Regions from separate parts of the Homo sapiens genome. Here regions 2, 3 and 4 are each linked to region 1. The links come from fine-mapping of genetic effects on gene expression. A gene starts in region 1. Each other region holds a variant in brackets. All regions are shown on one strand. Distances are between the middles of the regions. Region 1 holds the start of SH3PXD2A (SH3 and PX domains 2A). Region 2 overlaps SH3PXD2A (SH3 and PX domains 2A). Region 3 overlaps SH3PXD2A (SH3 and PX domains 2A). Region 4 overlaps NEURL1 (neuralized E3 ubiquitin protein ligase 1).

What was found. PIP is the estimated chance that this variant, and not a neighbour inherited with it, causes the effect.
Region 2: its variant is the best candidate, but not a certain one, in a credible set for the expression of SH3PXD2A in whole blood (INTERVAL, PIP 0.64).
Region 3: its variant is the best candidate, but not a certain one, in a credible set for the expression of SH3PXD2A in whole blood (TOPMed, PIP 0.51).
Region 4: its variant is the best candidate, but not a certain one, in a credible set for the expression of SH3PXD2A in monocytes after LPS (Quach 2016, PIP 0.68).

The regions. Positions count from the first base shown.
Region 1 is chr10:103,853,057-103,858,201 of GRCh38, forward strand. It overlaps SH3PXD2A (SH3 and PX domains 2A), which reads right to left and starts at 2,520. Exons shown (of 15, transcript NM_001394015.1): 1 at 2,139-2,520. The coding sequence starts at 2,210.
Region 2 is chr10:103,622,553-103,627,697 of GRCh38, forward strand. SH3PXD2A (SH3 and PX domains 2A) reads right to left here. Exons shown (of 15, transcript NM_001394015.1): 9 at 4,537-4,650; 10 at 1. Among named protein-coding and RNA genes, the nearest start is that of NEURL1-AS1, 110 kb to the left of the region's middle. The variant C/T (reference allele first, on the strand shown) is at 2,182.
Region 3 is chr10:103,661,177-103,666,321 of GRCh38, forward strand. All of the region lies in intron 7 of SH3PXD2A (SH3 and PX domains 2A), which reads right to left. It overlaps LOC124902495 (a long non-coding RNA gene), which reads left to right. Exons shown (of 2, transcript XR_007062276.1): 2 at 4,771-4,975. Among named protein-coding and RNA genes, the nearest start is that of SH3PXD2A-AS1, 83 kb to the right of the region's middle. The variant C/A (reference allele first, on the strand shown) is at 2,627.
Region 4 is chr10:103,531,308-103,536,452 of GRCh38, forward strand. All of the region lies in intron 1 of NEURL1 (neuralized E3 ubiquitin protein ligase 1), which reads left to right. Among named protein-coding and RNA genes, the nearest start is that of NEURL1-AS1, 16 kb to the left of the region's middle. The variant C/T (reference allele first, on the strand shown) is at 2,150.

The DNA of each region.
Region 1 (5,145 bases):
AGTTCAGAACTCTGCATGGCCCCATCTGTTCAGTGACATCACTCCCTGCCCCCCCAAACATAATGTCATCGATTCTTACTCGGGAAGCGGAGATGTCCCGGGAAACACTTTGTCTGTAAAAAGGAAGGAAATGATCATTTCGAGGGAACTGGACAGGACTTCTTTTGTGTTTTTCACATAGAACAAGTTATTATCAATCTTAAAACCCAAAATCTTTCTTCCTTTTTGCCAGACCATTAATAGCTGCTTTTCAAAAATACTTTCTTAGTCAGAATCTCACCAATAATAAGCTACCATTTAATAAGAGCTTACTGCGTGCCAGGAACTGGGCTAAGTGCTTTACATAGATGATCTCATTTAATTCTCCCAACAAGTACATACTATTATTATCCTTACTTGAAATTGAGTAAACTGAGGCTGGGGGAGGTTTAAATAACTTGCCAAGGTGGCACAGCTAGTTACTGGCTGCATGCCAGGCTTTGAGCAAGACCGTCTAACTTCAGAACCCCAGCACGCAATCTTGCCTTTCAATCCTGTCTGCAGTGGGCCCCGGTTCTAGTTTGTTACCAGTGTGTCCTGCATCTGCAACCTTGGGCACCATCGGTGGGAGCTGAAATGTGATGTTTCATTTAAAATCCAGAGTTGGAAACGCACCTGCCTGGGTCTCAGAGCAGAGTGCCATCTGTTGAATGCAGTGCCAAGCTCAGCTGAGGACTACAAATGAGAACCCTTAAAACTTAGCCTGCAACATTTGAGAAAAATAAACCCTGGGATATACAAAGGGACATCTGTCCACAGAGCAGGTTGACCACCTGGTGACCCAAGCCCTCCAAAAAGAGCTTTCTTGTAACAGCAGCAGAAAATGCTTGCTGGACCAGATGACACAAAAGAAACAACTCTCTAAGGGTGTCAGGGACTGGACCCGACAGGCACCCACCTCCCTGCCTAGTCAACCTGCCTCCACATTTACCTCCTCCCCATATGAGCCCAGCCGCATTTGCTCAGCTGTAAAGAAACTCAAAGTTCAGAGCTACACTGGTGACAAAGGCAAAAAGAGTAGCCCGAGGCTGACATTGCCACAAACCCCAGTCCCTTTGCAACAGTGGAAGAAAAGGCACTTCAGAGATCAATGTACAATCCAGGGCAGCAACCAGCGCCTGTTTTAACTGTTAAGATTAATGCTTTGAGCACTGGAACTGCTCCTCTAAATACCCAATTTGCAAATAACATGCAGTCCTCTGTGCTTGGGTCTCTTCTATCTCAAGTACAGGAGCACAGACGCTCAGAGGGGTCAAGGACACCGTGTTTACTTCCTAAGGTGTGAGGGATGGGAAGACAGGACCGGCTGAGATGAAAGGGGAACTGTCACATAGGCTCTGGAGCTGCCCCAGTCAACCTTAACCCCTTCTCATTAAAGTTTGGGGGAGGAAGGGGGAGGGGCGGTTCCTCGGAGACCACAGCAAACATTCGCCTCCTCGTGTCTGGAGATGGAGCATCACTTAAGAGGAAATGAACCCGGTTAAGGGTCACGTCCAGAGGAGGGATAAAAGGAAAAGCCACAATTCTCCTCACACCGACGGACACAATGGCTTTATGAGGGAAATCAAAGCTTAGCGCGGAGGGTGGAGGTTGGGCAAGGGGGCGGCGGCTTCCTTCTGCCCCCAGCCCCAGGCCTAGGAAGGCAGAGACAGAGCTGGCGTGGGAGGCAGGGCGCGAGGCTTCCTTCTCCAGGGCGAGCTCTGAAAGCATCTCGGGCTGTGTGAGCGTGAGCGCCCAGGGCCCCTGGGGAGGGCCGAGGAGATGCGCTTTCCCGACGGGGCTGCTCTGTGAGGGGTTGACGAAAGCTCCCCCCACCATCCATCAAAGGCGGACAGATGACTTCACCGTTGTAACAGACAAGGGCAGCCACTTGCCAATTCCAATGCCAAAAAAAGAAACCGGGGGGGCGGGGGTGCGAAGGAGGAAGGACAGAAGAGGCTTCCCTGGAGATCACAGCCCTGCGAAGAAACTCCACGGCTGCTGGCTGCCCAGTGGGCGCTTAGCTTCGCGACCTCACAGCTGGGAGGGGCAAGGGGCCATCCGGGGCCCTCCCGGGACCTCGGGCCACCCCCAGCAGGGTCGGCGGGGGCTGTACTCACGTAGTGCTTGGAGGGGTTCCTCCGCTTCTCCACGTCCACCACGGTGGCATCCTGCACGCAGTAGGCGAGCATCTTCCCCCACAAAGCGAGTGGCGCCCCCGGCGGCGTCACCTTCTCATCCCGGCCGGGCTCCGGCTCCTTCTCCAGCTGCCGGGGTCCCGGGGCCGCCCGCCACCCCGGCCCGGCGCGCCGAACGCTGCCCGGACTCCCGGCGCCCACAGGTCCGGCCCAGGGACGGGGGAGGGTCCCGGAGGGCGCGCGGGCTCCGTGCGCCCCGGGGGACTCCCCGCCGGCCTGCCGCGCGCCCCTTCACTCCCGCGCGGCCGCCGCGCTGCGCTCGCCCGCTCGCTCTCTCCGCCGCCCGGTGGGTCCGGCGGGAACTGGCGGAGCAGAGGAGGGGCGGGGGTGTGTCCCGTCGGCGAGGGGACGGGGCGGGGGCCCCGGAGCCTGCTGTCAGCGTCCTGGGGAGGGGCCGGCGGCTCCCCTTCGCCGCTCTCCGGCTCGGGCTCCGGGGGGATCGGCGCTGGCGGAGGCTGTGGGCGCAGGAGGCGGAGGCAGGGCCTGGCAGGCAGGGAAGGGAAGGGAGGGAGGGGAGAGAGGGGAAGCGCGCGGGGAGGGGCTCCGGGCCGGGGGAGGGGCTCGGGGCGACGGGGAGGGGGCTGCAGCCCGGCCCCAGTGGCAGGGGCGGGCCGACGAGCCCCCACCCGAGCCCAGCGCGCAGCCAGCGGCCTGGCGCAGCACCGGGCTAGTTCGCTAGGCACAAAAACTCAGGGTGGCTTCGGGGGGAGAGGGAGCGGGGAAAGTGAGCCCCGCGCGCCCCCATCCTGGCTTTCCGCCTCGGAGCGGATTTGTGCCTTTTTGTCCCCACTTTTATGTCCCCCTACAACTTCCACCCCCAGATCTCTTTAATGAGAAGTAGTTTATTACCCGGCTGTTACTGCCCAGGCCCCCGAGGAGGAGATGGGAATGGGGAAAAGGCCAGCTTTAAATCCTTCAAGCCAGAGCCTCTTTGGACGAACCACCTGACCCTCTGCAGGTCATAAAGGGTGAATTCTCCCCGGAAAAGTGATCGATTCGTTGCCTGAGTCGTCCATCGATCTGGGCTTGTGTAACTACCCTGTGCATCATTTACCAATGACAACGTTACAGACTCTGCATAACACCACTGCCTTAAGCCCAGGGCTCCCCTGGGGACCCTCCCCAAGCTGGCGACAGGGAAAGGAGCATACAATGGTGGGAAAACCCACCCGGTTGGAGGCCAGCTCACCGTGAGCCCCAGGCTCTGGCATTCTCACCCCTCCCTCTAGTCTGGAAAACCCACTTTCCAAGCCACTTGTCCGTGGTCCCTGGACTTGGAGCACAGTTACTACTTAATTCAATGTAGCTTCCCCCCTTCTAGTTCAACATTTTTTTCCCATTCTGCTTTCAAACATTTAAAGGGTAGTGTTTTCACAACTACTCCAGTTGTTACACAATCACAATAAAGCTTTGTGACTGTGGACCAATGTGAAACATCTGAAAAGAGGACAAATAATTTTGTGACCTAATTGCATTAATACTTTCTTCTGCGCGTTCTCTAGACTGTCAGAACCCAGGCACAGATCTAAGGCTTTATTTATTCACATATTTGCTCCATACAGAGTAACCCACTATTCCTCCAACCTTCCTGGGGAAGGGCGCTAGGACACCAAACGATGGCACGGGACAAAGAAAAAAAAAGATGGATGGGCCTAGGGGGCTCAGACTGTGAGAGATCTTGGCACCAGGCCAGAGCTTCTTGGTCAGAGAAGATGACAGAAAACCTTTGTGAATGTTGGAGCAGGAGTCCTGGGGGAAGGTGCACCTGGTAATGTTGCTCAGCTGATGGGAAAATGGGAGGACAGGGCACTACCTCCATGAGCAAGGATTATTCCCTGAAGGGATGAGAGGTAGACCTGGAACGGGCCCTCCATATTGAGCTCCCGAACTTGGGAGGGTGCTGGCCAGCTCCAGGTCCTCTCTGATGATGGATCAAGACAGCCTGTGAGTTTGTGAGGAAGAGATTCATCATGGCTCTCGGATAACTCGTCTTCTGTGGATGGCAAAGTCTTCTGGAAGTGCTAATAAAACCTGAGAAGCCACCAGCGAGGGGAGCTGGTGTTTAGCTGTTGTGGGGGGAAGAAGAGGAGGGGGTTTAGTTTGATTTGGGTCCCCTTGTGAATCAAAGCAGTCAGCTCATCTAAAACAGCACTAGTGGTTTCCTTATTACCCTTCTTTCGGACCCAGATCCACAATGAACACACCAAGCACAATAAATTTGTAGGAGAGAGGGCCCAGTTCTTCCCCACTTCCTAGCGGCCTACAAAGTGGTAGCCTTTCTCCTGCCTAAAAGACTCCCTGCAACTTGACATTTTATAAATTCAGGCCTTTAAGCCTGACTTGAGCATACTCCCAACTTCCCCCTTTGTTCCGTAATTACCTTTATTGGAGGGAGCAACTGAGTGCTCCCCACTCAACCCCATGGTGCCAAGATCTGGGCAGAAGTTATTTCTACCTGTGGGAGAAAAATGTCTTTTCTGTACTGGGGCCGTATGTCCAAGGGGATTTAAGTATGAAATGGTGCAGGCTATCTCTTCTCTGGGTACATTTCAACCTCATGCAGATTTATTTCCCACAGTGCCTTGGGAATTCCTTTCTGTTCAATACACATTTATTGAATGCCTCACATGTGCCTGGCAATCCCCCAAAAATGACAGAGACTGGGGGAAGTTTCCTTGGAAACAAGGACTGTGCATCATTCATTAAATACCCCAACTATGCGTGGCACACAGTAGGTATATAGGATGGCCTGTGTTGAAAACATCTGCTCAAAGAGCTAGTGCTAGAAAGGATTAGAGAAACCCCTATTTTGCCACCTCCGCCCATGAACTGGAGATGACTCCAACCTAAGGACATTGTGTGAGTTAAAAATGACAAAATATAATTGCAAATTTTTTTTTAAGTTTAGGATAAGTAAGGGAAAGAGAAG
Region 2 (5,145 bases), 230 kb before region 1:
ACTGGTGTGGGAGATGGCGATGGAGCATGCGGCCAACAGCAACCGGCGGAGAGAATGGAGATGAGGATGAGATGGGATGGGGGTGGGAGGAAGGGGCACAGGGAGGGGAGGCCCACACTTCCAGTCACCATCACCTGGACTGAACCAAAGGGCACGCCCCTGTTGGATGGGGCAGATATGACAGGTCATGGTCGGCACACAGGGAAAAATTCAACCAAACTCCACAGCGTGTGCCCCTGAGCCTAGGAGTGGGCTAAAGCCTTTAGAATCCCAGCACCTTAGAGAAAAGAGGGTCCCTAGCTCCAGCCCAGTGCAAGACAGCCCCTCAGCTACAGCCTCCAGGGATGGTGAGATCAGTGTCCCTCACTGCTGGGCGGTGCTGATTCCCAGGAGGGTGTGGGGTCCTGCAACATCTGAGCTTATGTCCACTCGCTCACTGAGTACTGACTGTGAACGTGCTACCTTGGACAGGCACCATGCTTGGAAGAATCAGTGTGCCCAAGAGAGACTTGGATCCCTTCCTTGCGGGGCTGAGAGCTCTCGCCATTCTGGGAACCCTTCCCTGTGTCTCTGCATTCCCAGGGCCTAGCACAGGGCCGGGCACACAGCTGGGTCCCAGGAAGCACCTGCTGAACGGAATGACACAAGGGTGGGTGCCAGAGGCCCTGGCTCTGCTCCTCCTCTCAGGCCACCCATCGGGACATCTGATGACAGGGGCCCCCTCCCCAGCTTCTCACTGCTCCTGACCCCGTGCCCTGAGCAGCATCCTGCACTGCTCCTCTGGTGGCTGCTGCTTGGCTCTGAGCCCCCTGCACCCTCTGCTCAGACCCCAGCTCCAGATGCCTCTGTCTTCCTGTGAGACTCCCAGATGGAATGGATACTGGACCAGGGCTCCAGGGTGCCAGCTGGCCTCACTTCCTGCCACCACAGAAAGAAGGTGCCAGGCTGCCCGGGTCTGGGGGTGGGAGAGGGGCCAGTGGCTGGAGTGAAAATAAAACCGTCCCAGACCACCGAGGCCCTGGGAAAGCATTTGCTTTCCTGGAAGAAGAGGGACCTGTCTGACCTGCTTCTTATAAGGACAAAAGGGTAGGAGGTGTGGACTCCAGTCCAGGCCCCACTGCCAGCAACCTGTGTCACTCTAGGAGGCCAGCCACCCATCTCTAAGCCTCTCTTTCCTCATCTGTCTTACAGTGACACCACCTGCCCTGGCATGAGCCTAGACAAGGGGCTGAATGGGCTCTGGGAAACATGAATCAGGTCCTGTGCAAGGCCTCCTGGTGGGGCAGGGAGAGGTGGGGGAGGTGTGTAGGGCTTCTCTGCAGAGATGAAGGGGTTCAGCTCATGGCCAGACCAGAGGCAGCTTTCACAGTAAGGTGTTGATGTCGGCATTTACTCTGTGTGCGAGGCCCAGTTTAAACCATGTACAAAGATCATCTCACTTGGGCCTCACAAAAGCCCTATGTGGTTGGCATCTTACAAATGGGGAGACAGAGGCACAGGGCTTTAAAGAACACTCTGTGTCAGGCAGCATGTGAATCCAGGCAGTCTGGCTCCAAAGCCTAGACTCTTAGCACAGACTCTGCACCCCGAGCTATTGCTGTTCCCCTAACTCTGCTGCCCCTTGGGCTGCCAAGCCCTGGGAAGAAGGGGATGTGGGGAGGGAACAGGGTCTGGGTGCTGGGGGATCTGCTCACTAATGGGGTACACGCCTTTGGTACAGCAGCACAGAAGACCGTGGTCTGTTCCGCATGTCCCAATATGCGCCCACTCTGGAGGAAGCAGGTCCATACTGGTAGATGTGGGACACAGGAGCAAAGGCAGAGACTTGGGTTCTGGTCTTGGCTCTATCACAAATGAACCCGAGGGCTTGACAGAGGTAACACACCTCTCCTGGTTCACTGAAGCACCCTGCGAATGTCAGGCTTGGACCCGCACCTCTGTCAGTGGACAAGGAAGTCTCAACTCCCACCCTTCCTACCATACTGAACTCCCACAGCACACCTGGGTTCAAGAGCAGCATGAACATACATCAAAGTGTCTCATGATAAGGACACACCAGAACAGCCAATCATCTTTTCTTCCTAAAGTAATGAAGATGAGCTATTAGGAAAGCTTTGATAGGATGCAGGCTTCCAATTTCTGTCTACAGGGCTCAGGGCACCTATGATGGGATGGCCATAG[C/T]GCTGGGGTAGAGATGGCTGGAGAGGGAACTAGTGTCGGCCAATCTCTTGGCCATGTGGCTGCAGGTGCAGAGAGACTAGCGGACACACCACAGCAGCTGGGGCCTTAGGCCCAGGGGACCCATCCCTGAGCCCTTCTGTAGATCTGGGTGGGAAATGCCCAAGATGTGACGGTGGAATCCACAGCTATCCAGAAGTTGCCAGGAGAATTGGCACACAGGCCCTGTCAGAGGCGTGCGCAGGAACCTATTTTAGGAGAATCGCCCTGGGCACGCATGCACGCGCACACACACCCACACCCACCCCCCACACACATACACCCACACCGCCTCTGAACGCAGAATCTGCACTGGCTGCCTGATTCTTCCTCCATCAAGGTCAAAATCCTGCCCAACCCACTACTACTTGTTCTGTGCGCAAAGCACCTGCCTTCTGTTCCAACCAGGCTGGCATCTGTGCTCCACACCTCTCGTGCGCTTTCCTGCCCTGGCCTTCTCCCCACTCAGTGCCTAGGTCCTCCATAATCGACCCAACAGCTCCGCTCTGACCTTCCTGGTGCAGCCTTTTCAACTGGGGCTCTGATTCATACACGCACTGCCCTAGAGCTGCCTGTACTGCTTACGAGCAAAATGCTTCACAGAGAGGTGTGTGGCACAGCAGAAAGGACCAAGGGACAAAGGAGGTGGACTAGGGTCCAAACCTGATAAACATCTTGAAGCCTCAGTTGCCACAGCTGGAAGGATGGGGATGGCCATAGCCACAGGGTCCTCCCAGGGTGGGGGCAAGGGCATTTCAGGACCTGGTCTAGCATCTGGTACTTTGTGAGCTCCTGCTGTTTTTGAGAGGCCCTGGCATGCCCTATAGAATGTGGAACTAGGGGCTGGGCACTGTGGCTCATGCCTGTAATCCCAGCACTTTGGGAGGCTGAGGTGGCAGATTGCTTGGGGCCAGGAGTTCAAGACCAGCCTGACCAACATGGCGAGACCCCGTCTCTACTAAAAACAAAAATTAGCCAGGCGTAGTGGTAGGTGCCTGTAATCCCAGCTACTCAGGAGGCTGAGACATGAGAATTGCTTGAGCCCAGGTGGCAGAGGTTGCAGTGAGCTGACATTGTGCCACTGCACTTCAGCCTAGGAGACAGAGCAAGACTCTGTTTCAACAACAACAACAAAAAGAATGTGGAACTAGGTAGGAGGTGAGGCTGGGGACTGCAGGCATATGAGACCAGACCTAGCTCAGGGGCCAAGACTCTCCCCTGCTGCAGAGGTGCAATGGAACCAGAGGGAAGACAGGTGCAGGCTCAGCCCCAGGGCTCAGGGAGCAGCCCAGCCTGAACATGCGGGCCCTTCCCAATGGGGCCTTGTCCCTGGAAACCTGTCACACAGTGGAAGCACATGGCAGGGGCCGAGGCTCTGGTCAAGGGGCTGAAGTAAAGCCTCGACATAGGAGGAAGGGCGAAGCCCCAGCTGCCCGCCGAGTAACCGACATTTAGGGGAAGAATGAATAAGGAGCTGGCACTTGGCGGCTGCTTACTTTGGCCTGGCAGCAGAAAGCAGGCCTGGAGGTGGCCCGAGCACCGGGTGGTGGCCTCAATCCCTCTGGCTTTCAGACATCCATCTGGACCATCCCCACCAACCGTTAGGGAAAGAATTCCCGCAGCCAGGCCATGGGAGGCTTGGAAGCCATTAGGAGCAGGCAGCCAAGAACTGGGGGTGGCGCAAACGGACTGGGCTCAGGCAGCCTGCTCTAGGGAGTACAGAAGCCACAGATAGGCCCAGGCCAGTGCTGGCTTAGAGGGCAGGGGCAGACTCTTTGAAATGCAAGGAGAAAGACCCTGAAAAACCTCACTGAGTAGTTTTTAAGTGTTTGGAATTAAAAAAAAAAAAAGAAAAAGAAAAAAAAAAAAAGGAAGGGCTGGGTGCGGTGGCCCACACCTGTAATTCCAGCACTTTGGGAGGCCAAGGCATGTGGATCGCTTGAGCCCAGGAGTTTGAGACCAGCCTGGCCAACATGGTGAAAGCCTGTCTCTAGAAAAAAATACAAAAATAAAAAAAAATAAGAAAAAGGGGGGTGGGTGGAAAAACAAACCTCATGAAGCCAAAGCTAATCAGAGAGGCTGACTGTGTAGGGGTCTGAGCCATCCCTCAGTTCCTGAGCCCCTGAGACAGAGCAGCAGGGGTCGGACTGGGGTGGGAGGTGAGCTTTTGGGCCAACCTTACTGAGATGGGATCCCAAGGGAGGAGGCTAGGATATGGCTCAGCTCACTTTAGGGGTTCTGTTGGTTCTAGGGAAAGAGTGAGAGAGCTGCCTCCAGAGGCCGCGTTGCTCCCTGCCCCTTGGACCTGCAAGCCCTCACCTTCTCCAGTCTTAGAGGTGTTGATGTCGGAGTCATCCCGAGTACCATTCTGGGCCTCCAGGTAGGTGGCAGGGACCCAGCCCTGCTCCTCAGAAGTGCTCACGAACCACCAGCCTGCAGGGAGGACAAGAGAGAACAGGACTGTGAGATTCTGCAGGGTGGCAGGGGTGGCTCGGGGGCCAGGACAAGGATGGAAGGAGAGGCACAAGAAGCGGAGCATGGAGCCAGATGGCCTGGGGACCCAGCAAATGCCTGGCCCAGCTCCAGCCTCGAGGAGCCTGCGTCTGTTCTAAGGCAGAAACGACCAGCACACTTCCCGAGAAGTGGGACCAATAAACTGTGAGCCACACTAACAAATGTCTGATGGAAAATGAAATAGACATAGTGATATGTCCAGTGTGTGAAAATTCATCTTGCAGGAAAGGCCAAGGGAGCTCCGGCCATACAGAGAGACCATTTATGGTCTTTGAAACCCATTAGGATGACTGGTTTGCCTGGAGCTTGGCTGCCTTCTCAGCTTTCAAGCTAAGTGCCTCACAGACAGTCTCTAACGGTCAACGGTTGCCTTTTCCCCATCGCGGGTCAGCGGTACCTTCGCATTGGTGCCAC
Region 3 (5,145 bases), 190 kb before region 1:
CCCCTGTCCATCGGCCTCCTCGGGGGTGGCTGCTCTGTCGCCAGCGCCGCTCCCAGGGGCAGCCCGCAGCCGGGGCTCGCAGCTCACAGGGCGCCAAGGACAGGCCATATAGCAAGGCCCCAGACCGGCCCGCTGCACCGCGGGGTCCGGGGGACATGGGGAGCCAGGGGGCCGGGGAGGGGACGGGCAGGAGGAGGAGGAAAGAGAGAGGCAGAGCGGAGGCGGAGGCCAAGGAAGCTCAGAAAGAAGCCTTGTGCTGCGATGAGTTAGTCACAGCCCGGCATGAGGGAGCCTGCGGGGAGGCCTGGGGCCGACGGGGTCTCTCCGGCCTCCCTCTCGGGCCGGCAGGGGCATCGGGGAGGGCGGCGAGCCAGCGGGTGGGCGGCCCATGAGGGCTGAGGCCAGAGGCAAAGGAAAGGCAAGCAGGAGGCTCCAGCCTCTGCCCCCAACCCCTGCAAACCCGAGAGAAAAGGCAGCCCTGCTCCCTCGGGCGGGAGAGGGAGAGGAGAGAGCGGGAGAGAGCTTCTCCACGGCCCAGGCCCAGGCGAGGAGTCAAGAGGGTTTGAGGCCGCCAATCACTGGGGTTTACTCGCAACCCTTAAATAGAAACACATGAGACCCGTCGAATGAGGAGCCGGGGGTGGAGGCAGGGGAGGGGGAGGAGGCCTAGACTGTTTACTTGAAACCCAAGAAGAAAGTCCCCGCGCCAGCGGCTGGCGAGCCCAGCCCGCCCCCCGCCAACTTTTCCTCAAGTTCGCTCCGTTCCTGCCCCTCGGGCTCACCCAGGCGCTGCCACCGAGCCCAGGCCGGGTACAGTCGGACCAGCCTCAGGCCTGCCCCCAGCCCTGCTTCCAGAGAGGGCCCTCTGGCTGCAGAGACTGACTCAGTTTCTCTCTGCCTTTCAGTGCCGGGGCTTGTGGTCAGGCCCCGGCAGTTTGAGGGGCTTGAGGGGTCAAAAGCTGGGTGCAGCAGAGGGAGGGCAGGTGGACTCCCAGGAGCAAGCAGCTTCTCTGTCCTCCTCAGCCACTGGACCAGCACGACATTTGCTAAGCAGGCACCAGGCAGGAAGGCAGACAGGCTGGGTGCCCTTTTAGCTTCCTAGCTGAGTGGCACTGGATGCTGCTTAAACCTCTGCACTTCAACTCTTCCCATCACCATTATTGGCGGGGGGGGGGGCGGGGGGGGATAAGACACTTAAAATATGATGTGCTTTTTTTTTTTTTTTTTTTTTTTTGAGACGGAGTCTCGCTCTGTCGCCCAGGCCGGACTGCGGACTGCAGTGGCGCAATCTCAGCTCACTGCAAGCTCCGCTTCCCGGGTTCACGCCATTCTCCTGCCTCAGCCTCCCGAGTAGCTGGGACTACAGGCGCCCGCCACCGCGCCCGGCTAATTTTTTGTATTTTTAGTAGAGACGGGGTTTCACCTTGTTAGCCAGGATGGTCTCGATCTCCTGACCTCATGATCCACCCGCCTCGGCCTCCCAAAGTGCTGGGATTACAGGCGTGAGCCACCGCGCCCGGCCTATGATGTGCTTTTAGCTAGGAGTGAAAAGGATCCACTAGCCAGAAATGGACTAGTCACCTCCTACAGGAAGCCTTCTCAGACCACCCCCAGCCCAAAGGGAATTCCTAGTATACTTTTGTTTTTTTTGAGACAGGGTCTTTGTTGCCCAGGCTGGAATGCAGTGGTGCAATCATGGCTTACTGCAGCCTTGACCTCCTGGATTCAAGCAATCCTCCCACCTCAGCCTCCCATGTAGCTGGGACCAAAGGCACACACCACCATACCCGGCTAATTTTTTTATGTTTTGTAGAGCTGAGGTCTCACTTTGTTGCCCAGGCTGGTCTTGAACTCCTGGGCTCAAGTGATCCTCCCGCCTCAGTCTCTCAAAGTGCTGGGATTATAGGCATAGGCCACTGCGACTGGCATAAACTATATGTCTGCCAATCTCCTTGAAGGCTAGGGGGCTTCATGTCACTAGCCTGGCTACAAAAATTGCTGAGGGTCTCCAAGTTCCACACAGCCCCCTTGGTGCCTCAGCCTATAGCCACATTCCCCACACGCCTGAGTTTGACTTGGCAAATGTGATGTGCCAGGCACATTAACCGCCCCATTTCATGCCCACAACATCCCCCTTATCTTCCATTTCACAAAAGACTAACCAGAGGCCCCTCTACAGCAGGCAAGAGACGACTCTAGCTCCCACAGCTGCTATGAAGAGCATCACATTCATTCAGTATGATTTTGTTCAGGCCCAAGCCCATCTGTCTTTCCATTGCAGAATAACTGCCTCTGATTTGTTTCCATCAGTCTGGTTCTTCTAGCACAGTAATCCTCAACTTGGAAGCACAGAATCACCCAGGGAGCTTTTTAAAAGTACTGATGCTGGGCTCCAGAGAGACAGGTTTCTTTGGTCTGGGACTCAGGCATGAGTAGTTTTTGGACATCCCCCCTGTGTCCCTATGGTGCTTGTGTGCACCCAGGTGCAAGAAGCACTACTTAGATCTTTGGGTCCTTCTGTAGGGGGAGGCTCCCTCCAACCTAGGGCAGACGGCAATGGCCACAGAACTCTAGGAAATCCCAAAGGGAGGCCTCCTTCCAGGGAAAGAAACCCACTGCCCCCCGG[C/A]AGTTTTCTCCCATGAGGTGTGGGCCCTGCAGGCCCATCTCAGCCCTTTGGAGAAGCAGAAGGGACCCTGCACAGCTGAGTGTGCCACATACATTCGCACGTGCACAGTCCCGAGCAGCCCTGCTAAAGCCGGGATTGTATTTCAGGCAGAAATGCAACCAACAGCCGGGCAGTAGGGCCTGCCCCGCCTCTGTACTTAGGCATGCCAGCTTCTGTGCCTGCCCCTGCCAGCTGGGCAGAGGCAGCGCCGGGTGCTGCGCTGACGGACTACCTCCCACTGTGCCCCTAGGGGAACAGCAGTGCCTGTTCCATGCCTGGAGCCTCTGTGGCCAACAGCACTTCTTAAGCGCACCCGGCACAAAAAGGGCCATCCCTGCCCTACGAGAAATGGGGCCTCCTTTCCCAGTGTGGGGGCACTGGATGAGAAGAGTGGGAAAGAAAGGCTCCAGCAACAAACAAGAATAGAGAGTTCTGTGGCAGGTTAGAGAGCCCGCAAGGCCTGAGTATGGCCAGATCATAGCAATAGTGACAGCAAGCCTTCATCAGTGCTGACTTGGAGGCATCCAACAGCATCGAGCTGCCTCGTCCAATCCTCAGAGCAACCCCATGCAGTAGGTCCTGTGATGGCCCCGTTTCACGCATGGGCAAAGCAAGCCTCATGAGGGTAAGTGAATTCTCTAAGGTCACACAGCTGGGATTGAACCCAAGCCCACCTGACACCACTGCCTATGATCTTAACTTCTGCACTGTATGTGGCCTATAATGGGCCACCGGCGCCTGGTCCCTAGGGAAGGGCCCATTACATCCCAGGTACCTGGGACACAGCGGCTGCTTAATAAAGACTAGAGTATGGGTTTCTTTCTCTCTCTTTTTTTTTTTTTTGAGACGGAGTCTTGCTCTGTCGCCCAGGTTGGAGTGCAGTGGCAAAATCTCGGCTCACTGCAACCTCCGCCCCCCAGGTTCAAGCAATTCTCCAGCCTCAGCCTCCCGAGTAGCTGGGATTACAGGTGCCCACCACCATACCTGGCTAAATTTTTTTTTGTATTTTTTAGTAGAGATGGAGTTTCACCATGTTGGCTAGGCTGGCCTTGAACTCCTGACCTTAAGTGATCTGCCCGCCTTGGCCTCCCAAAGTGCTGGGATTATAGGCATAAGCCACCACGCCTGGCCTAGAGTATGGGTTTCTAGTTGACTCTTGCCACCTCTACTGACCAGACCACAGTGCCTGTTAGGTGGCAGGCACTCAATAAGTGTGAAATGAACCAGTGAAACGCGTGAACTGGCAGAAAGATGAACAGAGGGACTCATTGGTTTGTGGTGTCAATATGAATACCTTGACTCTGATATGGGAATATGGGAAAATGAGCCAAACTCGAAGGGAGAAAGGGGAGATGGGGAAACTGAGGTAAGGAGGAGAAAGAAGCCCCAGCTTTGTGGCCAGAAGATGCCTGGAGGACGAGCAGGAGGTGCTGGGGAGTGGACAGACATCAGCTCATTTTAATCCAAGCCAAGAAAATCTGAGGCAGGGTTTCAAAGCAGAGTTAAATCCACACCCCCACACCCCTTCCCCCCACCACTTTCCTGGAAAATTGGCCTGACCTTCCTGAAGGCTGACTCTCTGGGACACAGGTAGAAAAGTTAAGGAAATATTCTCTAGGCATTGGAAAGCACAGACAGGCTATGGCCTCTCTCAGGAGCTGCTCCAAAGGCTGTGGGATGGACACACGGACACTCTGTCCTTCTGGCTGCCCTTCCCTCCCGTTGCACAGGCAGGCTCCCAGCTCTTCCCTCTGGCAGCTGCCTCTTAGGGTGTTCCCTGGCCAGGGCAGCCGGGCGGGCGGGAGCTGCGAGCAGGTATCCAGATGAGAAACCACTTGCAGGCCAGGCAGGCAGTGGGCGGTGATGTCATCCCACAGAGGCCACTCTGGATCCCCTCTCAGCCAAGGCCTGCAGAACTAGGGGCTGGAGGAGTCTGCCTGAGTGGGGAGGGGGCAGTGGAGGGAGCCTGGTGTCTTTAGATGAGGAGTGCTTGGCAGGAGCATGGAGAAGGGGTGTACCTCTTCTAGACAGCAGAGCCTCTCCTGGGTTGGAAGGGGCCTTTGCATGAGTCTGATCCAGAGATGGACCCTTGTGCTTTATTACAGAGCCCCTGGCTGGACCTGCTGGGGTCCCAGGGGTCCCCTGGACCCCTGCCCCACCCTTGCCTCACATCTGCATTCCTTCAACTACCACCTGGATGGAACCCTGGCTGCCAACTTAAACTTCTCAACTGGGCTTTTGCCAAGTCAGTCCCATGCTCCAACGCCTTCCACGGCTCCCTCTTGCCTATAAAGGACAAATTCAAGCCCAGTCTTTCTTGCCAATCTGAGCTCCCCAAGTTCCTTGATCCCCGTCCCCCACACCACCATTCAATACATCATTCATGATTCAACACATGTATCGAGCACCCACTAGGCGCCAACACCCAACACCACTGCTCCATGCAGCTTCTTACTTTCCAAGTCTGTGCTCTAGCTGCT
Region 4 (5,145 bases), 320 kb before region 1:
ATTTCCTATCTAGATGATCTATCCAATGCCAAGAGTAAGGTGTTGAAGTCCCTAACCATTATTATATTGGGTTCTGTCTCTACTTTTTGAAACATTTTTATTTTTTTTATTTATTAGAGGTGGAGTCTTGCTATGTTGCCCAGGCTGGTCTTGAACTCCTGGCCTCAAGCTACCCTCCTGCTGTGGCCTTCCAAAGTGCTGGGATTACAGATGTGAGCACCATGTCTGGCCCCCACTTTTTTTGAGACAGGGTCTCACTTTATTGCCCAGAGTGAAGTGCAGTAGCATGGTCATAGCTCACTGCATCCTCAAACTCCTTGGGCTCAAGTGATCCTCCTGCCTCAGCCTCCTAAGTGCATACTACCATTCCTGGCTTTTTCTTTTTTTTTTTTAGTAGAGATGAAGTCTCACTATGTTGCCCAGGCTGGTCTTGAACTTCTGGCCTCAAATAACCCTTCTGCCTCAGTCTCCCAAAGTGCTGGGATTACAGGCATGAGCCACTGTGCCTGGCCTCTGTCTCTCCCTTTAGATCTAATAATTTATGCTTTATATATCTGGATGCTCCATTGTTTGGCACATATAATTTATGATTGTTATGTCCTCTTGCTGAATTGATCCCTTTATCATTATATAATGACCTTGTCTCTATTTACCATTTTGACTTAAAGCCTGCTTTATCTGATGTTAAGCATAGCTTTTCCTGCCAATTTTGGTTTCTGTTTGCATGGAATATCTTTATCCATCCCTTCATTTTCAGTCTATATGTGTCTTTACAGGTGAAGTGAGTTTCCTGTAGGTAGCATATAGTTAGGTCATTTATTTTCTTATCCGTTCAGGCAGTGTATGTCTTTTAAATGGAGGAATTTAATCTGTTTACATTCAAGGTTATTGTTGATAGGTGAGGACTTGCCCCTGTCAATTCATTAATTGTTTTCTGATTGTTTTGTGTATCCTTTCTTTCTTATTGTTTATGATTGTGGTTTGGGTTTTTGTTTTTTTGGTAGTGATAAGGTTTGATTCTTTTTCTCCTTTGTGTATTTGCTCTACCAGTGAGTTTTACACTTTTATGTGTTTTCATGATAGTGATGATTGTCTTTTTTGCTTCCAGATGTAGGATTCCATTGAGCATTTCTTGTAAGGCTAGTCCAGTGGTGATGAATTCTTTCAGTTTTTGCTTGTGTGGGAAAGACTATTTCTCCCTAATTTCTGAAGGATAGCTTTGCTGGATATGGTATTATTGGCTGATGATTATTTTCTTTTAGCACTTTGACTGTATCATCCCATTCTCTACTGGCCTGTAAGGATTCTGTGGAGAAATCTGCTCTTAGTCTAATAGATATTCCTTTATATGTGACTCAATGCTTTTCTCTTGCTGTTTTTAGAATTCTCTTTTTTTTTTCCTTTTTTTGGAGGCTTTCTCTGTGAACTTTCTGTATCTTTGACTTTTTACAATTTGACTATAATGGCCTCAGGGAGGGCCTTTTTGGGTTAAATCTATTTGGGAATCTTTGAGCTTCCTTGATCTGGATGTCCACATCTTTCCCCAGACTTAAGAAGTTTTCAGCTATTATTTCATTAAATAGGTTTTCTACACCTTTTTCCTTCTCTTCTCCTTTTTTTTTTTTTTTTTTTTTTTTGAGATGGAGTCTTGCTCTGTCACCTAGGCTGGAGTGCAGTGGCGTGATCTTGGCTCACTGCAAGCTCTGCCTCCTGGCTTCACGCCATTCTCCTGCCTCAGCCTCCCGAGTAGCTGGGACCACAGGCACCCACCACCATGCCTGGCTATTTTTTTTGTATTTTTAGTAGAGACGGGGTTTCATCATGTTAGCCAGGATGGTGTCCATCTCCTGACCTCATGATCCACCCGCCTTGGCCTCTCAAGGTGCTGGGATTACAAGCTTGAGCCACTGTGCCTGGCCCTTCTCTTCTCCTTTTAAAACTACTGTAATACAAATATTTGATTGCTTTATTATGTCTCATAAGTCTTGTAATTTTTCTTGACTTTTTTGTTCTTATTTATTTTTTTCTCTGACTGGGTAATTTCAAATGACCTTTCTTTTTTCTTTTCTTTTTTTTTTTGAGATGGAGTTTCACTCTTGTTGCCCAGGCTGGAGTGGAATGGCGTGATCTCAGCTCACTGCAACCTCTG[C/T]CTCCTAGGTTCAAGTGATTCTCCTGCCTCAGCCTCCTGAGTAGCTGGGATTACAGGCATAAGCCACGATGCCGGACTAATTTTGTATTTTTTTTTTTGAGATGGAGTCTCACTCTGTCGCCCAGGCTGGAGTGCAGTGGCGCGATCTTGGCTCACTGCAAGCTCTGCCTCCTGGGTTCACACCATTCTCCTGCCTCAGCCTCCTGAGTAGCTGGGACTACAGGCGCCCGCCATCACACCCGGCTAATTTTTTGTATTTTTAGTAGAGACGGGGTTTCACCGTGTTAGCCAGGATGGTCTCGATCTGCTGACCTTCTGATCCGCCCGCCTTGGCCTCCCAAAGTGCTGGGATTACAGGCTTGAGCCACCGCTCCCGGCCTAATTTTGTATTTTTAGTAGAGATGGGGTTTCTCCATGTTGGTCAGGCTGGTCTTGAACTTCTGACCTCTGGTGATCCACCCGCCTTGGCCTCCCTAAGTGCTGGGATTACAGGCGTGAACCACCGCGCCTAGCTCAAATGACCTACCTTTCAAGTTCAGAGAATCTTTCTTCTGCTTGATCAAGCGCTGTTGAAGCTCTCTATTGCATTTTTTATTTCATTCATTGAACTTTTTGGCTGCAGGACTTCTGTTTGTTTCTTTTAAAATTGTTTCTATCTCTTTGTTGAATTTGTCTTTCACATCGTGAATTGTTTTCTTGATTTTTATCAGATTGTCTATCTGTATTTTTTTTTTTTTGTATCTTGTTGATTTCCTTAAGATCTCTTTTTGAATTCCTTTTCTTGAAATTTGTGGATTTCCTTCCCATTTGGGTCTCTTACTAGTGAGTTATTATGTTCCTTTGGTGGTGTCATATTTTCTTGACTTTTGAGTTTCTTTTGTCCCCACATCCTCACATTGATGTCTGTACATCTAGTGGATCAATCACCTCTTCCATTTTAGAATGGCTTTTGTAGAGAAAGGTTTTCATCTGCAGTTGGGTTGTAGTGTGCCAGTTGGAAAGAGTGTGATGACTCTGTTTCTGGATAGGTGCAATGGTATAGTCTCTATGCAGCTTCTTCAGCTGCACTGGACATCAGCAATAACTGTGAGCACCCCCGTGGCCTAGGCTGTAGATGTTTGTACACTGGCATCATAGGTTGTTAATGTCCTCAGTGTTGAGGGCTCTTGAGGTCCTCCTATTCTCATTTAACCCACAAGGGGAAGACTTAGCCAAGGGTATCTCTCTTGGTATCAAGTCTGACATGGCCTACAAGCAGCTGCAGCAGCCCTGAGTTCCAGGTGCAGGTGCTTAGAGTGGCTGTGGGGCTGGGGTCCTAGGCTGAGGGTCTTGCAAGCGTATTATGCCACCTGGGTCATGGGGTGCAACTTTGCTGTCAGTGGCAGGGTTGGATATATGTTGCCCACAGAGCCAGCATCTGTGACTCTGAAGCACCCGCTATCAGCTCAGCCCCATAGGCTGGGTTGTACCTGTGATTCTACTGCTGGGAGGGAGAGGGCACAGTACTGGCCTGACTCCTGGGAAGAAGTGCTCTAAAGATTTGGGCCTGGGAGACAAGGCATGGCTGCAATTCAGGAACTTGAGCCAATAGGGTTCAGCAGCAACTCAGATCCCAGGGGATGAGGCATTGTGTAGTGTGACTCTAGAACAAGGGATTGTGGGGCTTGGCAATAATCCTGACTGTGTGATGCCAGGTGCAGCAGCAGCAAGTATCCCAGAAAGGTGGGGCACAGCTGTTGTTTGGGCACTGAGGGGGCAAGAAACAGCACAGTGATGACTTTACTCCCCAGGGAGAGGGGTATGTCAGCGGCTCAGACTCTAGAGGGCTAGCCCAGCTCTGGGGCAACAGAGTACTAGGGTTGTTTGGCCTGTAGGGCAGGATGTCTCAGTTCATTCACAGCTCTATTTCCCTGGGACATGGGGTACTAGGTCAGCTCAGTTCTGGGATGCACAGTTGCTCAGCTTGGCCAGGGCACTGATTCCCCAGGAGCTGGTGTGCTGCTTCAGCTCATGCTTGGGGGTGATAGGGGACATGACTGTCCTCGGCAGCCCAGGAACTATTTCCCTGAGATGCAGAGCACCACTTTAGCTTAGGCACTGGGGTGAGTGACTGCTCCAGGTAGCCAAGGTACTGTTTTCTGGGATGTAAGGCACTCCTTCAACTTAGGCACCAGAGAGGTGTGACTGTCCTGAGCAGCCAAGGTACTGTGTTTAGGAGGCAGGGTACCTAGGAAATCAGTTAGGCTCTGGCCCAAGGGGGCAGAAGGAGGGGTAGATGGAGTGGCTCTACCTCTGCTGGGCCCTGCAGGGAAGGGTGCAACAGCTGCTGGCAGCTTGGCTTGGGGATGTTGGGCCACTGGGCTGGGGTGGAGGGTGGCTTAGCTCCAGGGATGAAGGGGACCCATGGCAACTCACCCCGGGAGCAAGATGCGCTCCAGCTGTTGTTCCAATTCCAAGATGGCATAGCAGAGTAGCCATGTGGGCACAGGGGGCATGGCACAGCATTGGCTTCTTCTTTGGAGGAGCACTGCTGTGTGGACTCCAGGCAGCTTCCTTAGCTGAGCTTGGTGCCTGTGAGAATTGCAGGGACTCCAGTGGTGAGGTCTGTAGGTGGCCAAGGTGTTGATGGGGGTTGCTTGCACCCTCTTGCTTACCTCCTGGTTTCCAGCTGATCCTGGTGGGGGGATGGAATGGTAGAGTCCCAGCATTTTCTTCTGTTCTCTGTGTAGCCATCTCAAGTTTCTGTCACCCATCTGATGAACTCTGGCACTCTCCCTCAGTTATTTTTGTTAAAATAACAATGTTGACCGGGCGCTGTGGCTCAGGCCTTTAATCCCAGCGCTTTGGGAGGCTGAGGCGGGTGGATCACCTGAGGTCAGGAGTTTGAGACCAGCCTGGCCAACATGGTGAAACCCCTTCCCTACTAAAAATCCAAAAATTAGCTGGGCGTGGGGGTGGGCACCTGTAGTTCCAGCTACTTGGGAGGCTGAGGCAGG